Linked DNA regions of Homo sapiens. The protein of the gene in region 3 purifies or fractionates together with the protein of the main gene of each other region. This does not show direct contact. Each region holds a gene or a part of one and is shown on either strand. Other genes may lie near its edges. The genes, in order: GALNT18, PLXNA2, NDP, LRP1B, ZNG1A, ATRN and TMEM67.

The links.
Region 1: the proteins of NDP (region 3) and GALNT18 purify together in Homo sapiens (affinity purification with mass spectrometry; one large-scale study listed by BioGRID and IntAct). This does not show direct contact.
Region 2: the proteins of NDP (region 3) and PLXNA2 purify together in Homo sapiens (affinity purification with mass spectrometry; one large-scale study listed by BioGRID and IntAct). This does not show direct contact.
Region 4: the proteins of NDP (region 3) and LRP1B purify together in Homo sapiens (affinity purification with mass spectrometry; one large-scale study listed by BioGRID and IntAct). This does not show direct contact.
Region 5: the proteins of NDP (region 3) and ZNG1A purify together in Homo sapiens (affinity purification with mass spectrometry; one large-scale study listed by BioGRID and IntAct). This does not show direct contact.
Region 6: the proteins of NDP (region 3) and ATRN purify together in Homo sapiens (affinity purification with mass spectrometry; one large-scale study listed by BioGRID and IntAct). This does not show direct contact.
Region 7: the proteins of NDP (region 3) and TMEM67 purify together in Homo sapiens (affinity purification with mass spectrometry; one large-scale study listed by BioGRID and IntAct). This does not show direct contact.

What each region holds. Positions count from the first base shown.
Region 1 is NC_000011.10:11,374,006-11,377,505, forward strand, and holds part of GALNT18 (polypeptide N-acetylgalactosaminyltransferase 18), read right to left. Parts: intron 3,375-3,500; coding exon 3,177-3,374; intron 1-3,176. UniProt on the Homo sapiens protein: Catalyzes the initial reaction in O-linked oligosaccharide biosynthesis, the transfer of an N-acetyl-D-galactosamine (GalNAc) residue from UDP-GalNAc to a serine or threonine residue on the protein receptor.
Region 2 is NC_000001.11:208,038,385-208,041,884, forward strand, and holds part of PLXNA2 (plexin-A2 precursor), read right to left. Parts: intron 1,675-3,500; coding exon 1,608-1,674; intron 1,384-1,607; coding exon 1,237-1,383; intron 601-1,236; coding exon 441-600; intron 91-440; coding exon 1-90. UniProt on the Homo sapiens protein: Coreceptor for SEMA3A and SEMA6A. Necessary for signaling by SEMA6A and class 3 semaphorins and subsequent remodeling of the cytoskeleton. Plays a role in axon guidance, invasive growth and cell migration.
Region 3 is NC_000023.11:43,970,591-43,974,638, forward strand, and holds the start of NDP (norrin precursor), read right to left. Parts: upstream 2,801-4,048; 5' UTR 2,714-2,800; intron 963-2,713; exon of another isoform or gene 855-962; intron 1-854. UniProt on the Homo sapiens protein: Activates the canonical Wnt signaling pathway through FZD4 and LRP5 coreceptor.
Region 4 is NC_000002.12:142,124,517-142,128,016, forward strand, and holds part of LRP1B (low-density lipoprotein receptor-related protein 1B precursor), read right to left. Parts: intron 1-3,500. UniProt on the Homo sapiens protein: Potential cell surface proteins that bind and internalize ligands in the process of receptor-mediated endocytosis.
Region 5 is NC_000009.12:162,057-165,556, forward strand, and holds part of ZNG1A (zinc-regulated GTPase metalloprotein activator 1A), read right to left. Parts: intron 2,393-3,500; exon of another isoform or gene 2,347-2,392; intron 1,982-2,346; coding exon 1,922-1,981; intron 414-1,921; coding exon 376-413; intron 1-375. UniProt on the Homo sapiens protein: Zinc chaperone that directly transfers zinc cofactor to target metalloproteins, thereby activating them.
Region 6 is NC_000020.11:3,477,518-3,481,017, forward strand, and holds part of ATRN (attractin isoform 1 preproprotein), read left to right. Parts: intron 1-3,500. UniProt on the Homo sapiens protein: Involved in the initial immune cell clustering during inflammatory response and may regulate chemotactic activity of chemokines. May play a role in melanocortin signaling pathways that regulate energy homeostasis and hair color.
Region 7 is NC_000008.11:93,782,394-93,785,893, forward strand, and holds part of TMEM67 (meckelin isoform 1 precursor), read left to right. Parts: intron 1-1; coding exon 2-67; intron 68-2,828; coding exon 2,829-2,985; intron 2,986-3,500. UniProt on the Homo sapiens protein: Required for ciliary structure and function. Part of the tectonic-like complex which is required for tissue-specific ciliogenesis and may regulate ciliary membrane composition.

The DNA.
Region 1 (3,500 bases), on a different chromosome or scaffold from region 3:
TTCCCTGGGGAATGCAGATACAGGAGACTTCTGGGGCAGAGACTGACACCCTGGAGCCACTGTTTCTCTTCCTTTCAAATCACTGCATTTTATTCTAAATGGCTTCACCCTCACAGACCTGCAGGCATCCTGGGAAGCTAATCCACCACTCCTAAAGCAGACTGAGACCCTGCTGTGGTGGAGGTAACTGAACCCAGGCCTTCGAGGTAGTCTCTCTGGGAAAAATCCCCCTTCCGGATGCATGTCTCTAAGAGAAGTTCCCTAGCCTCTCTGAGCCTCCGATTCCATATCTGTAACATAGGATCTATTCTAACCTCACACGGACTAAATTAAAGCACTTGAGAGCCTCTGGGACATAACTGGCACTCAAAAGGCCATTTAAAAAGGTAAAAAGATGCAATTGTGCACTAAGTCTAGAAGATCCTCTCTTTAAATACGTGATGATTCAGAAACATCAGGCTGGCAGAGTGGGGCCTTGGCATTTGCCTCTGCATTCCTAGTGTTGGACAGGGCAGGGCACGCTGGAAAAATGCTTTCAGGACACACAGGAAGGGACCTTCCTCAAACTGACAGTTCAAGCCAGGTAATGAACAGAATCTGAAACAGTTACTCTGAGATGAGCACAGGCCACCTCAGTGGTTTATTATTAACCGGCTAGGGTATTAAGTGGATTCTATCAGCATGAAAGAGTTATCGATTTACACCTTGCCTCATTCCTGAAAGGATTAGAAATAGCTTATGAGAAAATTTAAAATACATAGAGAACCATAAATAGATAAATGTCTGGACAGACCTAAAGATTGCAACAAATTGGAATGCATGTGCAGAACCAAGGTCCTCTCTCAATTGTTCTTAAAGCAGACATGAAAGCTTGCCTTTGAGTTTCCTGTTGGTCAAAGTGGAAATGAACACACATGGTCTTAGAAACAAAATGTACAGTTCTCATGTGAAAATGTCATATTAATTGATTCCCTGGGGATAGCAAGTCTTTCTTTGACTGGCAGTCAGTTTGAAAGAAATTTCTCACGTGGATTTTCTTAATGGGGTCACCTGGCGACTTAGGGAACAGCGATCACAAAGACATCCCTTTAGAATACACCAGAAGATATTGCTGGGCTCTTTTTATGACTTACACCATGTGTGGGCAAAGCACTCAAGTATAGCTTGAAAGAAAAGGGAGCTCGGATGGGCAAGATACATTTGTATAAATCACAGCTTTCTGTGGAGCTGTCTTCATCTGGGAATAAAACCAGGAATGTTCTTCCAAAAATCTTCCATAGAAGTTATTTCCCTCAACCAAGTTTTTGATAAAAATTGGGTGATAGAAAATTTGAGGTTGAGATGACATTGTCTGGCAAGGACCTGGAATGCAGGCTTGCTGATTGAGACTGGACCAGTACAGTTAGAGATGAGCAGAACAGAAACAGTTACTGTCAATGCAGTCTTCTGCAGGAATGCTCATTGCATGGGGGCATATTTCCTTCCAACAGCATTCATCAGGCCTGGGAGCAGAAAACAGCTACACCAGTTCTGAGCTCAACAGTGGACAATAAGAGGGGTGAAAACTAGCCACTGAGTCTAGCTTCTCTGGGTGGATCCTGGCTCTACCGCCCAGAGCCTTTGGCAGGGCCATTCACCTCTCTCAGTCTTGCTCTCCTCCTCTTGTAAAACAGGGATGAGACATGAGCGGTCAACAGGTTGCGATGATGATCAAATGAGCCAATGCGTGTAAAAGACCCTTGTACATAGCAGACTGTCAGCAAATGTTTAACAACACAAAATTGTGGCAGGGGCCGAGCAGAGTAGGTATCAGGTAACTTCAGGAAAGTTAGGTGGTTTTATCCCGTTTTAAGTATGAGTATACATTTTTTCTTCTGGCAAGGAAAAATGTGATCTTAAGTAATAATCCCTGACTTTCAATTAAATTTTTCATACCCTTTCTCCCTAATATAATATAAAACAACATGAGCTTCTAATCTCTTGCACTCCAAAAACTGTACCCTAGGCCACCTTCTGGTGCCTTCTGTTTTATAACGGGCAGGACTTCGCAGGGAACATAAAGACACCCACCGTATCATCAATATAGACAGAAATAGGCCAGGCGCAGTGGCTCATGCCTGTAATCCCAGCACTTTGGGAGGCCGAGGCGGGTAGATCACGAGGTCAGGAGTTCAAGACCAGCCTGGCCAACATGATGAAACCCTGTCCCTAGTAAAAAATACAAAAATCAGCCAGGTGCAGTGGCAGGTGCCTGTTATCCCACCTACTTGGGAGGCTGAGGCAGGAGAATCACTTGAACCCAGGGGCCAGAGGTTTCATTGAGCCGAGATCACGCCATTGCCCTCCAGCCTGGGTGACAGAGTGAGACTCCGTCTCAAAAACAAAAACAAACACAGACAGAAATAAAAACTAGTGGGGACAGCTTTTGGAGGAGTCCTGAACCTTAAAAGCCGAGACCACACAAGGGAGTCATTCATGAGTCTAGGAAGATGGCAGCAAAGGCAGGAAAGAACTTGGGACCTTTGAAATGCAGTATGAAGTCACTTTTGTCTGAGTCTTACAGAATAACACTCAAATATCATCAAGGTATACACTGTCCTGTGGGGTCCGATCTTGCCTCTCAGCCCCTCCACCCCTACTGCCGGGGGCTGCTGGCTCACTTCCCACTTCTAGTGACTTTGAACCTTCTCTGTGTTCATGAACTTTGCATATGGGTGTCCATTCCCCAACCTAGCCATCTTCTACTCGCCTTCAAAAACAAGTGAAAATGCTGCCCTCTGAAAAGCATTTCCCCGCTTTCAATGCAGTTTCTGCCTGCATGGTAGAATAATGTTCCTATTCCAATGATTTTGTCTGTCTTCACTAGACTCCAGGCTTTTGGCAGTGGGAACCAAATCTTCATCACTCCGGATCCCCAACCTGGAGCACAGTGGTTGGCGCCCAGCAGACGTCTCACAGTGATGTGTGAAAATGGGTCACTTTGAGGCTGTGAATGGATTCTGAGATCTTCAGAGCCTGTGGCAGTGACTGAAGATCAGACTGCAGTTCCTTTCGACCCTGCCCACCCCTGTCATCCCCACGATGGGGCTCAAGTTGGAGAATAAGCATTGGACCAGTAGGCGGTCCCTAGCCTGGAGGTCAAAGCGGAGAGACCCACAGGTAAAGGTTTGCTTTACCTGATTGGCGCTGTGGAGTTCTCCAGCTTCCACCAGGCCTTGGGGGGATTTAGGTAGCGGCACCACAGCTCCCAGTCAAAGCCCTGGGCAGCCAGCGGGTACTCTTCTATCTCAAAGTTGTCATATTTGATGTTATCAAAGGATGGCGAGATGATCCGCTTCCGGTTCTCCTTGATGCGGGTGAGTACAGGTTCAGCCCTGGGCAGAGAGGAGACAGCCAGAGAGGGTAACCATTTCCAAGGTGGAAAAATCCAGAGTAGCATCTCCTGAAGGTCCTTCCCCAGCAGAAAGAGGAAGGAAGGCCTGCCCATCTCCTCTGATGGA
Region 2 (3,500 bases), on a different chromosome or scaffold from region 3:
GTGTGTTGAGCCGCTTCCAGTCACCCTCAATCTTGGTGGTGATGTCCTCATCTTGCAGCACGACCCGGGCGATCCGGCCTTGGCGCCACTCTGGGTGGAGGGGGTGGTGCAGGGAGCGGCGTGAGAGGGATGAGGGCTGTGAGCCAGTGTCTCCCGATTGCACCTTCTCTAGGGACCTGGCAACCCGGCCCCCTCAAGCTGGTACCAATAACAGAGGCTAGAGACATCTAGGGCTCCATGGGCCCAGGCAGCAGAGGAAACACGTAGACCTCCCCAGAGACAGCCACATCTGAACAGGCAGCGCTCAAAGCGGGAAGCATTTCACACGGGCCTCAGCTGGCCAGGACACAGTCATGCCCCTGCAAGGGTTGTGTGCATGGCAGCTTCCCTTCCTTCACCTCTCAACCCCTGCCCTCACACTCTGAGTCCAGGTTTCCTACCCAAGTCCATGTCCACTGCCCTCGGCCGCTGGGAATAGGGCACATTCTTATACACGGCATCAAGAATCTTCTCCTTGACCTGTGTGATGGTGTCACAGTTTAACACCTTCACTGGGATCTCTGGACTGTTCTCGTTGTCAGGGTTGACGCAGTTCAGGATCTACAAGTAGGGGACAGAGGGTGAGCAGGACAGGAGTTGAAGGAGTAGTTTGAGGGAGAGGGTCAGGACCTCAGAATCTTCTTTTTCCAAAGTTCACCCTCCTTATAGGGGAAATAAGGGTACTTTTCTGGTCTGTGACTCAGTTTCCCTCACCTTCATAACATCTGCCAAATGAGAGTCTGAGTCATTGTGTCCAATTCTTCTTTCTCAAAGCACCAGGACTCTACTTTCTAGCTCCTGGACAGCTTAGGGGAGACTATAGTCCTGGAATGAGGCACCCTCAGTGTTTAGAGATGGCTCTACATGTATCAGAGACTAGTCATGCACTTCCCCAAAGCCTCTATGTTAGGAACCAACATACATCTTTCTCATAATACCAATTACCCAATAACTAATGATGGGTGAACTTTTTTCTCCCCCAATATTATCTAGGATAAACCGAGGCATAGAGTGCTTGGGATGGGTGGGCGGGCCTGCCACCTTGCTCTTGGTACACTTAGTTGTCCTTTGGGCTCACCCCAGACCAGCCTCCCATCCTCTTTATTGACCCCCTAGACTGCTTTTATGGACAGAAGGCAGAGCAAGGGGCAGAAGTAGAAGATACACAGGCGGGCCCGGAGCTTCCGGCTTCCTCACCAGGGTCTTGTACTCGATCTGCTGCCGGATGAGCTTGTCCTCGCTCAGGGAGTAGCGGGCCTCGCCCGTGATGGCATCAATGGGGCCCTTCTCCATCTGCTGCTTGATGGCACAGTATAGCATGAAGAGTGGCTCCCCTGCGCACTCCTGTGGGCACAGACAGGGCAGGAGGTGTGGGCACGGCCTCCTCAGGTTTGTACGTTTTCCCTTTCCTCTCTCGGAGCGAGGCCAGTGGAAGGAAGGGCTTTAGCACAGCCAGTCCAGGTTCCTGCTCCCGAGGGAGGGGGTCCCCATGCAGCCCTGTGGCCAGGATCTAAGCAGCAGTGCCATCCTGCCCTGGACGCTAGGCCCCGTCTCACTCCCTTTCTCACCTTTAGGAACTTGTGCAGGAGGAAGGCGAACCAATTGGTCAGCATCTTTTCAGCCACAGACTCTGTCCTGGGGAAGGGACAAAGGGTAAGGGGCAGTCCTTCACAGAGGGGTCTCCGTGGTGGGGCCTGGGCTTGCCATGAGGTCTCCCAAGAGAACAATGGAGCATGGGAGAACGCAGGGCGGGAGTCAGGACACCTGGGTCCCAGCCCAGCTCACCCAGTAACTAGACTGTGACCTGGGGGTAGGGGTGGCTTCTTTCTGGGCCTCAATTTCCTATGAAAATGGAGAGGTTGGCCTTTTCAGCCCTGATGGTCCGTGGTGCTCTGAACTTTGGCTGCATCTGAGACAGGGTCTGTGGATAAAGGCACCTCACTATCCCACAGGGCTATAAAGAACCGGTTCTCCCAACTCACTTCTGGCCTCAGGGTGATAACTAGAGAGTTTCCCAGTCCCTCTGGGCTTTCTTGCATGTGTGAGTACCCTGTTTTGCCTATCTGGAAGGTGCCTGGTCCCTTCCCCTCCAAAAACACTCAAGGTTAGACTTCCTTGGGTTCAAATCCTGATTCTGCCATACGTTGGCTGTGTGACCTTGGGCAAGTCATTTAACCTCTCTGGTTTCAGTATTCCTATCACTAAATGGAGACAGTCATAATAACATCCAACCCCAGTGGTTGTTGTCAGGGTTGAATGAGTTAATATTTGTAAAGTGCTAAGAAAAGTGCCTGGCACCTGCTAAGCACTATCCATTAGCTGTCATTATTGCTGTCATGTGGGGTCTTGGATCCCAGCCCTCAGGTAGAGAGCAGTGCTTAAGTGTTTTGCCAACAGGGGATTTGCTCATGCAAGGGCTGGCCCCCCTCCCCTTCCCATCCCAGGGCTACAGATCTGGGGATTTGGGAAGGAACAAAGCGGCTGTGACAGACCCTCAGTGAAGGGGATGCCGGAGGGGTATTTTAACTCCCTGCACGTGGTGCAAATTATATCCTCTGGTTGCAGTAAATCCCAGGCATTTGCCAGGGCTGCTCAGCAATCTGGGCCTGGGAGAGAGTGACAATGGCAGAAAAAATTGTAGCTTTCTCCCGTGGCTCCTCCCAGCACCCTCTCCCTGCATTGTGCTTGAGATTAGCTCTAATTTAAATACAACAGTTCTTAATGAGAGTTTCTAATGCTCAGATTGGCAGGATGGGGGCTCAGTACTCATAAAGCAAAGCCATTCTTCCTCCCTCCTCACCCCACGTGGGGCCTGGAAGCCTGAGACCTTGCTAGAGGAAGGCTAAAGAGGAGGGGTGGTGAACGGAGGTGCAGCCCTCCAGCCCCTGCTGCCCAGAGGACTCCAAAGCTGTGCCCGGCTCCCCACGGCCTCTAGAGAGGGTGGGCTCAGGGGATACTGAGGTCTCCAACCCTCTCCCCTGCCAGGAAAAATGCAGTGGGCATGTGTAGTGGATGCTGTGATTCAGATCCAGGAAGCTGAGCTCAGAAGGCACGGCCTTCTAGGCTGTCCAAATCCCTAGCTCAGTGCTGCGCAATAGAACCTTCTGCGATAATGGGAATGTTCTCTATCTGTGCGGTCCCGTATGGTGGCCACTAGCTGCAATGTGGCAACCAAGCACTTAGAAAGCGGCTAGGTGCTAGGGCAATGGAGGAGCTGGATTTTACATTCTATTTCATTTTAATTTGTAGCAGCTACCTGTGGCTAGGGGCCGCTGTGCCGGACAGCACAGCTCTAGAGGCACCGGGAGGAAGAGACTGTGAGATAGGAATTATTTTTCTCATTTTGTCTAGGAGGAAACTAAACAACAGAGTGGTTACAACACTGGCCAGAAATCACAGAGCTAGCAGGAGGCAGAGCTGGGACTCCAGCTGAGATCCGAGCAAGGGTCTGAGCTCATCCA
Region 3 (4,048 bases):
CTATGATGGAGACCTGGGTTTGGGGAAGAGTTTCCAACAGCTTCTTCCCAGGGGCCTCTTGAATTTAGGCCAGGCCCAGAGGTCATTTGTTTTGATACTGGGGGTGGGACAAGTAAGTGGTGAGGGATAGTGACTGCATCTTCCTCCATATGCATGTTTCTAATTCGATGATTCATCAAGTGGCCCTGATGTTAGCTACTGAGTAGGCGACTCACACCCATCCCCAATAGAGACAGCATATGGTCCTTTCCACAGGGTGCTCAGGAGAGCAGAGAAAGGATAAACTACTGTCTTTTTCCGGGATTCTTCTACCCAGGCTGGAAAGATCTAGCCGTGTTAGCTGTGCAAATGACGTGTACCCAGGATCTGGTGAAAAAGGCCAAAGGGGAATCCCTTAATCATAAATGGAAAGAAAACCCACTGATGAGTGAGAATCATTTCAAGTAAATCTAGAAACCAGTAGCTGTTTTAAATAATTCTTTATAACAGGAAAGTTATTGCCCACTTTACCCATTGGCAATGCCCATTTCAGTTCCAAAATCTAACTAGAGATGGCATATGGACTGAGAATTAGAGTATGGGACAATGTCTCATTCACCTTTGCATCCATCGGGACTAGCATAGCACTGGGCATCTAGAAAATGCTTAATAAATATTTATTTAAAAATTGATGAAATAAATAATTAACCAGAGAATAATAGTACTTGAATTGTGAGTTCTTAAAATAAAGATTGCTGGCCACCATTGGTGGCTATAATTCCAAGAAACTCACCACATTTTTCAAGGGCCCAGGAAAATAAATGAGTTGGAAATTGTTAAATGTATTGAAAAATGATTTATTTTTCCCTTGACAGTGTCATTGGAACTCGAATTAAGATTGAAAACTCCACAGGCACATTTCCATCTGTGGGTGTCAGCTGCTTGGTACACAGTCGTAAGAAGGCCTCAGCCAGTTCTCCCGTTACCTGAACCAAATGTATTTTAAAATAAATGATGCAAAACATTGCATTTTGTGTTCAAATACTCTCATGTAATGATCTGAATAATAGTCTAAGAAAATTGTTTTGATTCAGCTAAATGCTTTGCTAACCGCAGTTTTTTTAAAAAAAAATTACAATAAAATTTTACAGCAATGGAATCCATAGTGTCTTTTATGGCTTTCTTGACTAATGAATACCCCAAAGTTGTAAATTAACCTATTCAAATATCAGATTTTCATTCAGCGATGCTTATTGGGCTGGTTATCAGAGAAAATCAGAAAAGTTTTGCATAAACTGTGTACCAATTTGCAATGAAAACTGGCAAACAGGACCATAAAGTTTCCTTGAATTAGTAAGACTGATGAGAAGAAAATGAGCAGATATTTGCATCTGGTTTAAACGCTCAGTTGAGAAGCATTGTGCCGTCCCCGCTGTATTTGGTTGACACCCACAGCAACTCCCCATTTCAGTCATCTCTCTGTTTTCAAATGCACCTGGTATTTAATCTTATGTGTTGGGGTAATTTGCCAATGCCAGCTCCTTGTAATTAAAATACACTAATATTAGAAATGAAAAGAGACATGTTTCACAGCAGCCATATCTGTTATTAATGAGTTACAAAGAACTGTACAAGGGACTCCCATCTTGCCAAATAGCTTCCTTTCCCGCACCTGAATCTCAGTAAAGATGGGAGTCTGCCTCTCATGGAGGCTTATCTGGGTTTGTCTATTACAATGAGCCTCAGTTACTGGGCGTTCTGAGTCATTAACATTCTGTACACAATCAAACTTCCCGTCCCCCAAGAAAGAGTTATGCCCAGGCCTCCTACAGCTCAATTGTTCATTTAAAGAGAGAACTTGTATTCCAAAGTTTGAAAGAAACCTCGGAATATCCCGCAGGTAGGAGTCATTCCTACAGGTCCTGGTCTCTGTGCTGGTGGGAGCATCCTTTCCCGGTCACTCCTTGAACATCATGCTGCAGGGACGAGCTGATGACTAAAAATAACCCCCTGCAATAAGTCCAAGGCAAACAGCATGCATTTCCTCGGACTTTTTGCCCAATCAAAATCATACAGTAAATCCATCCTCATCTCCTCCCGGTGCTCCCCAATGCATCTATGGAAGCGAAGACCTGCACGCTGAAAGAAGAGTGCAAGGGAGCAGGATTCCTGCAAAGCGTGACACAGAAAGCTAGAAATAAATGTTGCCTATTGTTTGAAGTCATTCTGAGCACTCCGGCAGAGCCCTGGCAGGAGATCAGCAGCATACATAAGTAGTAATAAAAGTAAACAGTGCGCTTTTAAACTCGCAGTCTTGCCTGCGTTAATAGTGCCCCCATTGTAAGTGGGATGAGGGTGCTGGGGAAGATACTGGGCTCCATGAATCCATGTTGGCAAGTTGCTGCTTCGCAGCCCCCTTTCACGGGGTCAACTATAAGAACCATCACAAAGTTACATCTAACTACGCAGAGAGTTTGAAAAGAAAAATCTCTTTAAGTCAAACCAAAAGATATTTTCAAGCTTTTCTAGGAGGCTCCCTGCTCTGTCACAGACTTCAAAGACCCGTTCATTTAAGAAACACAATGCTAGCATGCTACAGATTAATGCAAATTAAAGTAATGCAAATTTAAGTGGTATTTAAAGGTTGTCTCTTTGTCTGAGAGGAGGATGAAATGCTCGGTTTGGAAAGAAGCGATTTCCTAGGCAAGCCGGCAGCGCTTGTTTTCCTGCTTACCTTAGGGGAACGCAGGGCTCCTTTCTTCTCAGACTTTTCTGAGAGCTAGAAAGAGGTCCTGTTACTTCCAAATGCTTTTGTTCTTCTGTCCCTCTGTCACATGGCTTGCCTTTTATATTTGCAACACACAAAAGTTAGGACTGTTGTTTAAGCGACACAGGGAGAGAGAGAGAGGGAGAGAGAGAGGGAGAGAGAGAGAGGGAGAGAGAGAGAGAGAATGTCAAATGGAAAAGTGCCATTGCAGTCATATATCAATCAGGCGTGCGGCCGCAGCAGCGCACTAGCAAATGGGAATGCCACGGAAATGTGAGGCGCTCGTTATCGGGGACTCAGCCTCTGCCCACCGCTCGGCTCCCTTCCACGGAGCATCTTACGATGGGAACAGCGTAGCAGAACAAGGGCGAGGAAGTTTCTTTCTTTCTTTCTTTTTTAATGGTATTATGGAACTAATAAGAGGCCAAATGAATATTCTGAATTTAATTCTTTTTCAAGCATGTGGCTGCCATAAAGATGTGCCGTCCGCAATAGAGACGTATAGTTTTGGAAATACAAAGGCAGTGTGGCATTCTGTTGAACGATTCGGCAGCTGACTGTGATGAAGTTGAAATTTTAAGTAAGAGAGGGGAAAGATGGGAACCAGAAATTTTTTTCTCAGGCGATGCTGTTAAAGCAAGTGCAAAACGCTGCCCTATTTTATCACGATGTGTGTGGGTGGTGAGAGTTCTTTTTTTCCGGGTTGTTCATCCATTAAATGATTTTTAGCAGCATATACATGATTAAATTCACAATGGCACTTTAATAAGCCCCTTCATCTGCATCATTTAGAATAAAACTTTAGGTCTGATTTAGAAACAATGAGAACGTGTATTCCTTGACTCCTTGAGCTATATGAAGGAGAAACTAATAGATAAAGCTAACCCATTACACAACAACTAGTAGAAAAGTGACAAAGGTAACTATGTGTGTGGGTTAAATACCTGCAGCTGAATCATGCTGTGTTATGAGCTGTGGGACTACAAAGGCAAATATTTCATAATTCTTGCCCTTTGAAAGCTTAAAATTAACACAGAAAACCGTCAGGGATTTTGGAGGAAAATACAAAGAACATTTAATAATTATTTTATGTCAGGTAAATCAGACCCAGAATAATTTGTTTTATTAATACTACTGATGAAGAATTAAACTGAGAATTTAAAATATATATATTTCGTGGAAAAAATAATACATTATAAAACTCAAAAAGAAATTTTTCTTGGGAGCTTCATGTAATTGTTGATGCTGAAACTGTCTTGTTCAACTCTGTATCAAACTATTTGTTATTCATTAATAAATTTA
Region 4 (3,500 bases), on a different chromosome or scaffold from region 3:
TTGGAATATATTTAAGTTTTTTTTAATGTTTCACAAAATGGAGAAATACAAATTCAGTTAAAAAGTAAAGACAAAAAGAAAAATAATAAATTTCCACTTTCAATATAGTAAATTCTCTTTGAGTACAAATGAATTCAGAATACTTATTTATTTTCTAATAGTGTTTTAAACTTGTATAATACCCCATTATATAAATATGTAGTTACTACCAAAAATATTTCATTTGCCTAGTATGAGAGACACAACAGCAAAAGCACATATGATTTGCTCTGCAAACTAGAAATATGTTGCATAATTCTTTCAGGGAAATATGTTGTTGTTATTGTTTCTTCATAGAATCTCAATTTAGGCTTTTCCTGCAAGACCAGTCTTACTTTTTTTTTTTACAGGATGTATGGCTATTATTTAATAGTTTTGATTTCCATTTAGTTACTAGTCAGTTTCATCAATTGGTTTAGTCAGGGAGCTCAGTCAAAATATGTGGGCTTGTATAGAGATAGCCTAAATAGAAAGGATGGAGAGAAAGAGAGATGGAGAGAGTGAGACTGACTCTACATTTTAATATCACTCAATTTAGAACAGAGCAATACATAATACATACTTTCTAACTTGGCCTTGTAATTATGCCAGGGGAAAAAGGGAGGCCATCTGATCATTTATGAAGAGGAAAATATAGATTTAAAATTGTGAGGGCAGATTATAGAAGACAAACAGAAAAAAAACAGCATATACATTTGGAAGATGTAAGCTTACTTGTTGTGCTGAATGGCAGAATCTCCTGAATCCTTCATTCTCCTTTCTCTAAAATAGAGGGTTCATATGTACTTGGTGAGATTGACATGTTATTCAAATGAGAGAGGACTGAAGAGCCAGAACAGAGATTCAATACTATTGCAAGTATAATACTTTTCAAAATTGAGTGAGTGAGGTAAAGACACTCATTCTGTGCCAGTGGAACTCACATATGGAAATTAGTCCAAAAACCAACTTTTAAAAACTCAAATTATTTTTAGAGATATTTTCATTTTTTGTCTTATTTACTGTTTAAATAATATTTTATCCCAAAAAACTAATAAGTTTTAAAAATCTCCATCCAAAATAAAATAACTGGAGAATGTTCCCAAGGCCTATAGACTATACAATTTGTGATTGCTCTGTTGCAATTTCATTTCTATGTCTCTAGACAATGGTTTGTGACACAGGTTAAATTTGGGAATAGCTATCCATGTGAAAATGTATAGCAACTCCACAGAAGAAAATAAAAAGCATCCCTTGACATTTTTCTGTTTGATTAGCTAATTTTCCCTACTCTCCCCCCTCCTCTGCCAAAACCAAAAGAAAAACCTTCTTATTTGACCTTTCTATGCATCAAGATAGTTTTGGTCATTATTCTTGGATTATATGGGGGAAGCCAGGTTTCTTGAAGAAATTTAAGAAAAGTTTTAAAACTATCTAAGGTAGACATAGATATTTTCTCATAGGAGTTTGGCTGAGCATATATTCTGATTAATTCATAATGGAACTCAGTCTTTGGCTTTATTTTCTTTAGCATTCTGCTACTAAATGTATTGCTTCAAATTATAAGCATTGGGTATACCATAATTATATTCATTTCAAAAGCAGATAATTTTGACACGTGTTTCTGCCACACAGTCAGATTCTGTTAAAACAAAATACTTGTTATATCGAAATGTATTAGAATATTATATGCTATGAGTCAAAAAATAACTTAAAATTTTTTTCATTTCACTTTTTTTTTTGTCCAGATAAATAGACATGTTTATCTGGAGTTTTCAAAAGCAAAAGTTTCATTCATAAAAACCATCACCAATTTTCAAGCCAGAGTGGTATTTTTAATGGCGTTTGTGCCAAGGAAAGCCATTTTAAAGCAGATATACAGACACACATAAACACACACAGAGAGAGATTAAAAACGGGGTTGGGGGCAATTGTATAGTTGGGTTCCACTTACTACTAACTTAGTTTGACGAATGATATCATGTTGGCACAGGCATGTTTAACTTTTAGGATTAATTCTACTTTCTTTGAATGCATCTATCTAGAATGAAGACAAGTGTTTCCTTTGTACAAGAATTGTTTTGACAGACAGCCACAGAAGATAGAGAAATCTATCAGTATGTTTGATTGGTACTTTTTACTACACAGAATTCCTATAACCAGGAAAATGCTGAAGGAAAGGGAGGGAGAGTTGCACATTTCACATTAAGATACAAAAATTAATGGCAGAAACATAAAAAACTGGATCCATATATAGAATGGAGAAAAGACATAAAGTTCCCTCAACATCATAATCCTTGTAGAAGACCAAGTCCTGTTCAGTTCAGGTGACTTTAAATGGAGCTGATTTTTATGGTATCCCCTGGGCTGAGAAAAGAAATTGACAAGGTAACTGGCAAGAAACTAATGTCCTGGATCCAATAGATTTGCAAACTAAGTATTTCTGCATACCTCCACCTTGAAAAACAAGCAGCATTTAGAAAGTGTCATCTAAGTCCTAAGAATACATTAACCATATCACTCATCTAGCACCCTTTCTAAGAAAATTTCCTTTACCTTCACTTACATTTTTAAAAAATCACTTCCATATTTGTAATTCTAGCACAGTTAATATTTAATTTTTCTGCAATATTCTCATGTCTCTCTCCATTCTTAGAGGTCTAATTATATTCAGATTCACACTGGTGGCACTTTCCTTAAATTATTTTTATACTGTAAATATTTTCATATAATGTTTTTAATAATGAGATAAAAACATTTTAAGAAATTATTTTGTCTAAAGATATTTTAACCTATTCAAGAAATACTGATTCAGATTCTGATGTATGGCAGAATCCATCCATCCATCCATCCATCCATCCATCCATCCATTCATCTTTTTCCTAAATTTATCTTCAGCTTTCTCTTAACTCCATTTTTCCTCCTGAATTCTGTTTTCTGCAATTCACATTCTTTCTTATTGTTTTAGCACATTTAAATTCTTTCTTTACCTTTTCCATTTTCTCTTTTCTCTCTCACTCAGTTTAAATTTGAGCTTGAGAAGAGAGAAAGAGAACAAATTCAAAGATTAGCAACCTCTTCAAAACAAAACTTTAATGTTATTTGTGGCATATGAAGAGACATAAATCGCAGTTCATTCTTCTTTGAGGGGAGATTAAAATTTTGATATACATTTAATTGCCATTGTTTGATGGTTTTCTATACAGATACATTAAAATGACTATAACAGCATGAACTTTAATTATTTGGAAATGTGTCTCCACATTGTATCATACTCGAGAATTTAACACAGACTAGCATTAGGCCTCTCAATCCCTTTTCAGAAAATTTGACACTTTAAGATATACTTCCTTTTAAGTTTTAATCCTTATCAAGCAATACTTTGATATGATATGACATTGTTATATGACAAATTAGTTGATTCTAAGTGAATCTGATTTATCTTCCAATTTTGGCTGTTAAGAGTTACAAAGATGTTTCCT
Region 5 (3,500 bases), on a different chromosome or scaffold from region 3:
GTAATTTAACAAGAAAAATAAGATCTCAGATGCTTTATCAAGCTCAGCTTCTTCTATGGAACAGAAAAACTTACCAATATTGGGGTTGAATCCTTGTGAAGAGTTATACATACCAAACTCTACCCTAACCCCATATGCTTATTACAAATTATAATTCCAAATTTTATCACCAAATCAAACTCAGAGTAATAGAAAAGAAATATTTAACACAAACTAATAATTAAAACACAAATTTCACCTATTGTTCAGGATATCTTTTTGAGAAAGGTTTTTGTTAAAGAAAATTTCAGATACAAACATAAAGAAAATTAAACAATCAATCCCCATATTCCCAGCTCTCAATAATGACCCACTCATAGCAATCTTTCAACTTACTTTTAATCCATATTTTGAATCCACAATAGTTATGATACCTACAAAGGAAAAAACATTTTAATCACTTTTTAAAAAGAATGTTTATTAATATTTGTACAACCATACTTCAAAATGAAAATTAAAACTAACCTATTTCAGTTCACAAATACTACTCAATAAAACAATGTACTGTTTTTTTCTCTTGCCAGTGCTGCCATTTAATTAAATTCCAGTAATAAGTCAATGCATTTCCTGAGTGGCTAGCACTATTTTAAGGCACTAGAAACGATATAAAACAAATAAAAATTTTAAATTAAATAAATAAGAAAATAAGATTTCCTTGGCACTGAAAAAGCTTACAATCCAAAATATAAGTCAAATTTCATAACATAGTCAAATGTGATAAGTACATAAGACAGGTTATTTCTAGTTTATTTTCACATAATCAAAATCAAGACTTTTCTTAAGATTTAAATTATTGCCTAAAGAATGAGACATCTTAAGGTATCATTCCTAACATCTCTCACCAAATCCAAATCCAACTCATAAATGTTCTACATAACATATGCCTAAGTTTCCAAACTACCAATTCATTTTGCAATCTCTGAATATATGCTGATAACAAAAGAATGAGTTTAATTATGCCTAAGGAATTCAACCAGTTACCCGCCACATATATTAGAGCTCAATGATGGGGCCCAGCTTAATAATTCTTAAATTTCTTAATGATTATTACTTTTGAAAAAGTAAGAAAATTTCGACTGAGAAAGGGAGAAAACATAGTCGCTTAACTAAGAAAGTTTCTAATATATTTTAAATGAAGGCATATCATTGCCCAAAAGTGTTCAGGTAAATAAAGTAAGACAGGAGTGTTTAATTCTTATCTTCAAGAGAAAATAAAAGCAAAAATATGATCCTCATATTGCCTGGAGGATTAAAATAAAAGGCTCTAACATTATATTAAGGGCATAAATCAAACAACAGAGGATACAGAAAACCTACAAAGCATTTTTTTTTTTAAAGAAAACCTTAGTGGAAGCACTAAATTGGAAGTTGAGTGACATCGAGTTCCACCACTGTCTGGGGTTTTTTAATCTATATGAACAAAGATTTCATCATTAAACTAAAGTGTGAAAAGAACAACAATGCAAGGAATTAAAGTTATAATATGAATGAACAACAACAATAAGCTTAACCATAAAGATTTTACTAAAAAACAAAAGAGGCAGGGTGTGGTGGCTCACGCCTGTAATCCCAGCACTTTGGGAGGCCGAGGCTGGCGGATCACCTGAAGTCAGGGGTTCAAGACCAGTCAGGCCAACATGGCGAAACCCCGTCTCTACTAAAAATCCAAAAATTAGCCAGGTACGATGGTGCACGCCTGTAGTCCCAGCTACTCGGGAGGCTGAGGCAAGAGAATCACTTGAACCCAGGAGGTAAAGGTTGCAGTGAGCCGAGATCATGCCACTGCACTCCATGCACTCCAGTCTGGGCAACAAAGTGAGACTCTGTCTCAGAAAAAAAAAAAAAAACAAGAAAGATAAAAGAAAACTGTTTTTTAACTTACCATCAAGATAAATATCACTCCCTAATTCAGCATCAACCCAAAACATAGAAGCCACTGCACCTGAAAATATATAATATTCATCAAATAAAAATATTTCTTCACACTGAGAAACATGATTCTATCCATGTTTTAATTTGCCCTGATAAAATTAACAGGTAAACACATATATCTTCTTATGGAAATTATAGTGATAGAAGCTTTAACTATTTATAGCAAAAGGGAATTATAGTGATAGAACCTTTTACTATTTATACCCATTCCATTTCCATCTCTCTTGTTATTTCCTTTAAAAAAGACCAATTCTAACCACATATAAACAAAACATCATTCTTCTACCGATGCCATAATAATTTAATTAACAGATATTATCAAACAATTTGAGCAGTATGGCTTTGTGCACATCAGACTTATTTTTATTTTCTCACCTCTTTAATATGATAATCATTCAATCATAAATAGTGAATTATCACTCTAAAGGAAAAGGAAAACAAAACATAGATAATTCCAAAATCACTTGCCCAAAAAAAATTTACTTGTAATCTGTGTAGAACTAGAAGTAAAATTATATACTCTATGGCATTACTAATTATTCCTCACACTATTTATTTAGTACTGTATAAAACCTGGGTCTTAGGAAAAATTTTTCCTAAATAATAAATTAAAACTTGCTTTTGACAGAAATTGGTTCAGTACCAAACCACATACCCTGATTAGTATGCCACAACGCAAGAAAAAGAAAACTGACAGCAAGGAAAGTATTTGATTTTTGAAAGCATCACAGGCCCAGTTAGTGACAGGGCTGTCTAAAAGAATGAGTGTAGGAGAAAAACAAGGATAATCAAACTCATTCCAGCGTCTAAAGCTGTCCACCTACTCTGCCAAGATGTGGTCCCCCAAGCATCACTCGGTGTCAACAATGAAATACCTGTCAGCTGTTTACAGTGATTACTCATGCAAGATATAGCAAGGGCCACAAGATCTAATGGTTTCCTGATACCTATTGATTTTTTTCCCAAAAACTTAATAGTTTTCCAATTTGACTCAAATAGGATTTGTGAGTAACAGGGGCTGAATCAATGTCTGTTCTTTTCAAGGAAATTACTTTACCATGACAATTATTTAACTTAGAACTGGAGCGTGTCAGTCTCCAAAACGGGAAACAACTGAATTGCCAATAAGAATTTTGTTCACTTTCTTGGCTAAAACATGATTTTAATTAATGAGGGGGGAAATTAAATCTACTGTATCACTACTCCAAACAATAAGTCATTTAAAAAAGCATGAATTTTTTCACTCAGTAAAATATCTAACATACATAAATCATTTTGTAATTTTTAAAAATTCATTGATTTTTATTCCAATAAATAGTTTACAAATCCTACTGTTAATATTTGCCTCTTAAGTTGAAATGTAAGAGTATATTAATGCTTTATTCTAAAACTGGTATTTATCTTTGATATAATACTTGCCAGACTACATGAGAAAGATCTATTTAAAATTTGGATGTAGGTATTTAGGGGGAGTAAAGATGAATGAACAAAATTGATCAGTGGCTCTCAAATCAGGGTGCTTTTCTCCC
Region 6 (3,500 bases), on a different chromosome or scaffold from region 3:
CCAGTTTAGGCTGATCTGCTTTCCCCAGTGCAATGTAAGTTCCATGAGGGCAGGGGCCTGGAGCATAGTTCACAAGTCCAGTTTAGGCTGATCTGCTTTCCCCAGTACAATGTAAGTTCCATGAGGGCAGGGGCCTGGAGCATAGTTCACAAGTCCAGTTTAGGCTGATCTGCTTTCCCCAGTGCAATGTAAGTTCCATGAGGGCAGGGGCCTGGAGCATAGTGAGCAGTAAATATCTGTTGAATGAAGGAATAAAATTCTGTAATTTACTTCTTATGACTTTTAAAAAAGTCGTCTTTACCCACATGACTGCCATATATGTCTTCTGTCCTTATATTGCTCCTGAACTTCTCTGTCATCCACTGTTTGGTGGGCATCTTTTATTGTCACCTCATACTGAATCATGTATAACACCAAACTTCTATCCTCATTGAAAAAAATAGTCTTTTTCTTTGTACTTCCTTATTTGTTTTAGCTAAATCCAAATTTAGCTAACCAAAGGTCAAAACTTAGCAGTAATCTTTGGCTCTTTCTACCTGTTTGTTTTTTTCTGCTCTCACACTGTATAAATTTGTTTCTTTCCATTTCTTCTGCTGCCATTCTAATGTACCTAACCCTTCACCTCATTGCTGACCTGCTTCTGTTGCACTTTTACTGTTTTCTTACACCTGCAGAGTCTGCTTCACACTTTGTCATATCAGTCTTCTAAAAAACATGTGTCTCTATGCACACGTATGTTTATTGCAGCACTATTCACAATAGCAAAGACTTGGAACCAACCACTGATGGGCTATCCAGCCCATCAGTGATAGACTGGATAAAGAAAATGTGGCACATATACACCGTGGAATACTGTGCAGCCATAAAAAATGGTGAGTTCATGTTCTTTGCAGGGACATGGATGAAGCTGGAAACCATCATTCTTAGCAAACTAACACAGGAACAGAAAACCAAACACCGCATGTTCTCACTCGTAAGTGGGAGCAGGGAGGGGAACATCACACACTGGGGCTTTCGGTGGGTAGGGGGATAGGGGAGGGATAGCATTAGGAGAAATAGCTAATGTAGAGTATGGGTTGATGGGTGCAGTAAACCACTGTGGCACGTGTATGTCTGTGTAACAAATCTGCACGTTCTGCACATATATCCCAGAACTTAAAGTGTAATAAAAAACAAAAACATGTGTCTCTTATTTTGCTTCTTTTATTACCTCTAAAATGATCCTCAGCAGAAGGATCCCATTCCTTTCACATCCCTTTTTTTCCTAACCAAATCTTTCTACTTCGTAGTTTTTCTGTGTTTGCTAAATTCAGCACCTCCCTCCTCACTGCTCCCCCATTCTTTCTTTTCATCTCTACTTACCAAGGCCCACCTTCAGTTCTCTATAATCTATAATTCATACCCTTTTTTTTTTTTTTTTTTTTGAGAGACAAGGTCTTATTCTGTCATCTAGGCTGGAGGGCAGTGCTCCTGGGCTCAAGTGATCCTGCCACCTCAGCCTCCCAAGTGGCTGGGATCACAGGCCAGTGTGCCCAGCCAATTTTTAAATTTTTTGTAGAGATGAGGTCTCACTATGTTGCCCAGGCCAATCTGGAACTCCTGTCCCCAAGAGATCATCTCGTCTTGACCTCCCAAAGTGCTGGGATTACAGGCATGAGCCACTGCACCTGACCCCTATTATCTTCTTTTGAAATGAGTCATCTGCTAATTCACTTCATAAATATCTGCTGAATATTGTGTGTTAGGTACTGTGCCCTTCCTTGAGGATATGAAGGTGTGTAAGAATCAGGCCTTGCTTTCCCCTAAGAGAAGTTATAACTATGAAGGGAAGACAGCTACGTACACAGCAATTAGAATTTCATAATAAAAATACAGGCAATATGTGGTGCTGGACTAAGATGTGATTGACTTAACTCTTTTGGGGGTTCTGGTGGAAGACATCACAGAAGAGAGGACATTTGGGCAGGTCTGAGAGGTTTAGTGTGAGTAGACCATCTGGGGGAGAAAGACATTCCAGAAGGAATGAAGAGTTGATGTGCAAAGGCAAAGAATTATGGATTATCATACTTAGTGTATTAATTTCCAAGGGCTGTTACAGTGAAGTGCCACAAACTCATGGCATAAAACAACAGAAATTTATTCTTTCATAGTTCTGGGGACTAGAAGCCTGCAATCAAGGTACTGGCAGGGCCACGATCTCTCTGAAGACTCTCAGGGAGGATCTGTTCCATGCCTTTCTCTTCGCTTCTGGAGTTGCCAGCAGTCCTTGGCATTTTGGCTTGTAGATGCATCACTTCAGCCTCTGCCTCCGTCCCTTCAATCTCATGTGATACTCTCCCTCCCTTTGTGTCTCTGTCTTTTCTCTTAAGGGTACCAGTCATAGTGGATGAACGAGTATGACATCATCGTAACTTTGTTGCATCTGCCAAGACCCTGTTTCCAAATAAGGTCACATTCACAGGGACCCAGGGTTAGGACTTTGACATATCTTTTTGGGGAACACAGTACAACCCACAGCACCTGGAGAACTGAATGTAGGTGCCTGTTGTTGGAACATAACTTGTGAGGGGTGTAATGGAAGGAAGGGGGTGAGGTTGTAAGGTTATAATGGCCTCTTTTTGTCCCTTCCCAACAATCTCCAGCTTCTGGGTTTATGCTTGACCTAGGATAAGCCCTCAGGGCATTCCAGTTTCTGGCCGTGCTGATTGTTTTGAAATGGGTTTATGATTGATTTTAATGGACTCAATCAGAGTGAATCTCAGGACTTTTGTCGGAGATCCCTTTCCTCTGTGGGCGTTTAGAAGGACATGTGTTGCCTTCTTTTCTGTGTGGCGAGGCCATAATGCCTAGAACTGTTAAGAGTTAGCGTTGCTGCTGTAAGGAATTCACCTCAGGTCAGAACAACTCCCAGAAGATGGAGGATGGCAGAGAAATGGAGCCGGAGACCTGATAACTTTCTGAATCTCTGGATCAAAACTTGCCTGAAGGTGTAGTTTTTGGTTTGTGAAGTACTGCAGTCCATGTTTTTCTTAAGCCGGTTAGAGTTGGATTTCCTTCCACTTACAGTAGAACAATTCCTAACATACAGAGGGAGGGAGGTAGAGCCAGCTGACTAGGGTTAGTCAGTTAGGGCTTCTGTAACAAATTACCATAGACTTTACCTCGATGAAAGGTTCCCAAGATGGGCAGATGCTTTTTATTTACCGCAGTATAGAGGACAGGTATGTACGCAGGAGAAAAAGGAGAGTGTGTGTTTATGATCAGAACAGTTTTGATCATATAAATGTGATTAAGTGATTTAATACATTTGTAGGTTATTTTTATCTTAAGAAATACAGAAGTGAGTACCTAGTGTTATGATTGAACAGAAATCTTACACTGGTTTTTCTTGTTAATACAATCATATTTCCAAAACTGAAATGAAACTATAGTTGTACTTTTTGAAATACTTGTGTCTGGAAATTGGCCATTAACTTACTATGATACTTGTTTCCCACTTA
Region 7 (3,500 bases), on a different chromosome or scaffold from region 3:
GCTTTGTCCAGACACAGAGACAAGGCTAAATGCTGCTTATTCATTTGGAACAACCTACCAACAAAATGTAAGTTTGAACGATATTAGTCTATATTTTAGCTTTATTTTTCAAAATATCATGTCAGCAGTAATTGGAATAATACTTAAATTTTTGAGATTGGAAATTTTTTATTCTTGGTTTTTTTTTTTTTTTTTTTGAGATGGAGTTTTGCTCTTGTTGCCCAGGCTGGAGTGCAGTGGTGCAATCTCAGTTCACCACAACCTCCGCCTCCCAGGTTCAAGTGATTCTCCTGCCTCAGCCTCCCGAGTAGCTGGAATTACAGACATGTGCCACCACGCCCAGCTAATTTTTTGTATTTTTAGTAAAGACAGGGTTTCTCCATGTTGATCAGGCTGATCTTGAACTCCCCACCTCAGATGATCTGCCCTCCTCAGCCTCCCGAAGTGCTGAGATTACAGGCATGAGCCACCGTGCCTGGCCGGAAATGTTTTTAATAGTGAAGAATAATTTCACTATTTAATATAATTTTTTATTACCTGGGTACATAAAAGCTTAATTTAAGTGGCATAAACAGAGCACCTTGTTATCTATAGAGTTTTTTGTTTTTTGAGACAGAGTCTCGCTCTGTTGCCCAGGCTGGAGTGCAGTGGTGCAATCTCAGCTCACTGCAATCTCTTGCCTCCTGGGTTCAAGCAATTCTCGTGCCTCAACCACCTGAGTAGCTGGGACAACAGGCATGTACCACCACACCCAGCTAATTCTTGTGTTTTGCATAGAGATGGGGTTTTGCTGTGTTGACCACGCTTGTCTCAAACTCCTGACCTCAACTGATCCACCAGCCTTGGCCTCCCAAAGTGCTGGGATTACAGGTGTGAGCCACCTCGTCCGGCCTAGAGTCTTAAACATCATATAATATTACATCTTCATAATAAATTGTTTATCTGCTTCTAGGCTTATAGGTCTTAAAAAGTAATGCTTACTTCTGAGCATTTTGAAATAAAGTAAAAATACTACTTTTTTTAAATGACTAATAAAAAGTTACTCCCTTCTTCTACCCGCTCATAACAAATAAAAATAATTCCTTCATCTTCTTCCATTCTTTTCTTTCTCCTTCCTTCTCTGACTTTCCTTACTTTGATACCTATTTTGAAATTACATTATTTTACTAAGGAATATTATGAGCCATTCAATACTTGAAAAACATGCATGTATTAGTCCGTTCTCACGCTGCTAATAAAAACACATCCGAGACTGGGTAATTTACAAAGGAAATAGGTTTAATTGACTCACAGTTCACTATGGCTGAGGAGGCCTCAGGAAACTTACAATCATGGTGGAAGGGAAGCAAACATGTCCTTTTTCACGTGGTGACAGGAAGAGAAGTACTGAGCAAAAGGGGGAGAAGCCCCTCATAAAACCATCAATCTCATGAGAACTCACTCACTATCATGAGAACAGCATGAGGGTAACTGCCCCTATGATTCAATTACCTCCCTCCGGGTCCTTCCCATGACACATGGGGATTATGGGAACTACAGTTCAAGATGAGATTTGGGTGGGGACACAGCCAAACCATATCAATTCATTAGTCTGTAAAAGTACATCTTGATAAAGTTCCACGCACAACCATAGAACAAAACCATAACAAAAAATACCATTATGGAAAGTAGATTGGAAGAATCTACTAACAGTGGTTACCTCTGGATAGTGGGGTTAGAAATTATTTTTTTCTTTTTTATAATTTCCAAATTTTCTACCATGAACATGAATTTACTTCTTTTGTCAGAAATGATTTACACGTTGTTGTTGCTGTTGTTGTTAAAATAAATGTTATTGTGCTTCTAACATAGGCCAGAAAGATCAACACTTATGTAATGCCTATCTGTGTGCTCAGCATTTTATCGTTATTATCCCATTTGATTCATAAAATAACTATATGAGATACATAGTATCTGTGCTTCACAGATGAGGAAATTATGCCGTGTAATTAGGTAATTTACTCAAAGACTTGTGTCACATAAACTGTGGAGCCAATGTTCTATCATCAGGTTTAAAAAGCATTTTTATTTCTTTGAACCTGGCTAACTCTCAAGTCCTTCATAGACTAGTGGGCAAAACAGTTATATAGACAAAGAATTGCAAAGAATGTGATAAGTGTCATTCTATAGGTATGTACAAGGTACTGATTCCTGGGGAAGTATAGAAAGGCTTCACAAAGTAAGTGATACTTGGATTTGTATAATGAATATGAGTTTTCCAGAAGAACACAGTGGGGAAGGAAATATCAGACAGAAATCACATTTGTAATGACAGAGAGACATACAGTAGTATGGCATATTTAGAAACTACAAGTAGATTAGTATGAATGGACCACCATAGACTGATAGGGAGTAATGAGAGATAAGCCTGGCTTGGTTAATGGAAGCCAGATCATATACATCATTGTACAGCAGGAGAAAAAATTGGGAATTTATCCCGTAGGACAGTAGTTTTAAACCTTTTCACTGATGTACCCTTAATATTGAGAATGAAGGTATACCTCCTTCATCTGAGTTGAAGCTCAAGAAGTTCTCAAAATTCTCAAAGCAGTACTTTACTGTTAGTGGTTTTGGTCCTTATAAAATAATCATAGTATTCATGTTTTGGAAGACAAATGAAAATGCATATAAACAAGGTAGTATAAAGACATTTTGCAAAACTAGAAAAACACTCTGAAGATAATAAATATGCTTGCTAATTTTCAATTGTGATCTTTTATTTTATTTTTTACTTTTTAGTACTTTAAGTTGCTGTTTTATGTGCTTTTATTTTTAATTTTACTTTTCAGTGTGAGATTCCTATCTCTAAGATCTTAATTGACTTTCCCACTCCTATATTTTATGATGTGTACCTTGAATATACTGATGAAAATCAACATCAATATATTTTGGCTGTGCCTGTGTTAAACCTAAATCTTCAACATAATAAGATATTTGTGAACCAAGGTAAGACATCCATACATACCACTCTTTTCCCTGAGCAGAAATCAACAAATAAGTTAACCTACATGATAATTTAATAAACCACTGATTATAAGAAAGGTCATGAATTCTCTCTTATGTGGTTCTATACAGTGTGCCAAAAAATGAAACAATAAATTGCTGGTGGACTTAGAAACTGTTGCTAATTTTATTGCCAGACATATTGTTAAGAAATTATACTGTTGCTGAGGGTATATCCTGAGAAACATTAGTAGAACCGTAAATTGGGGCTTTTTCGTCAAGCTGTCCCGAATATGCTTTTTTGGACAAATTAGTTTCTTTTGTTGTTATTCATGTTATAAAATTCTGCTTTTTCAGGTAATTTGCAGGGGAAAGCCTTCCAAATTTATGAAAAGTTCAATCAGAAGACATTCAAGTCCAAGGCACGGTGGCTCACGCCTATAATCGCAGCACTTTGGGAGGCCAAGACGAGAGAATTGCTTGAGCCTAGAAATTGAAGACCAACCTAGGCAACATAA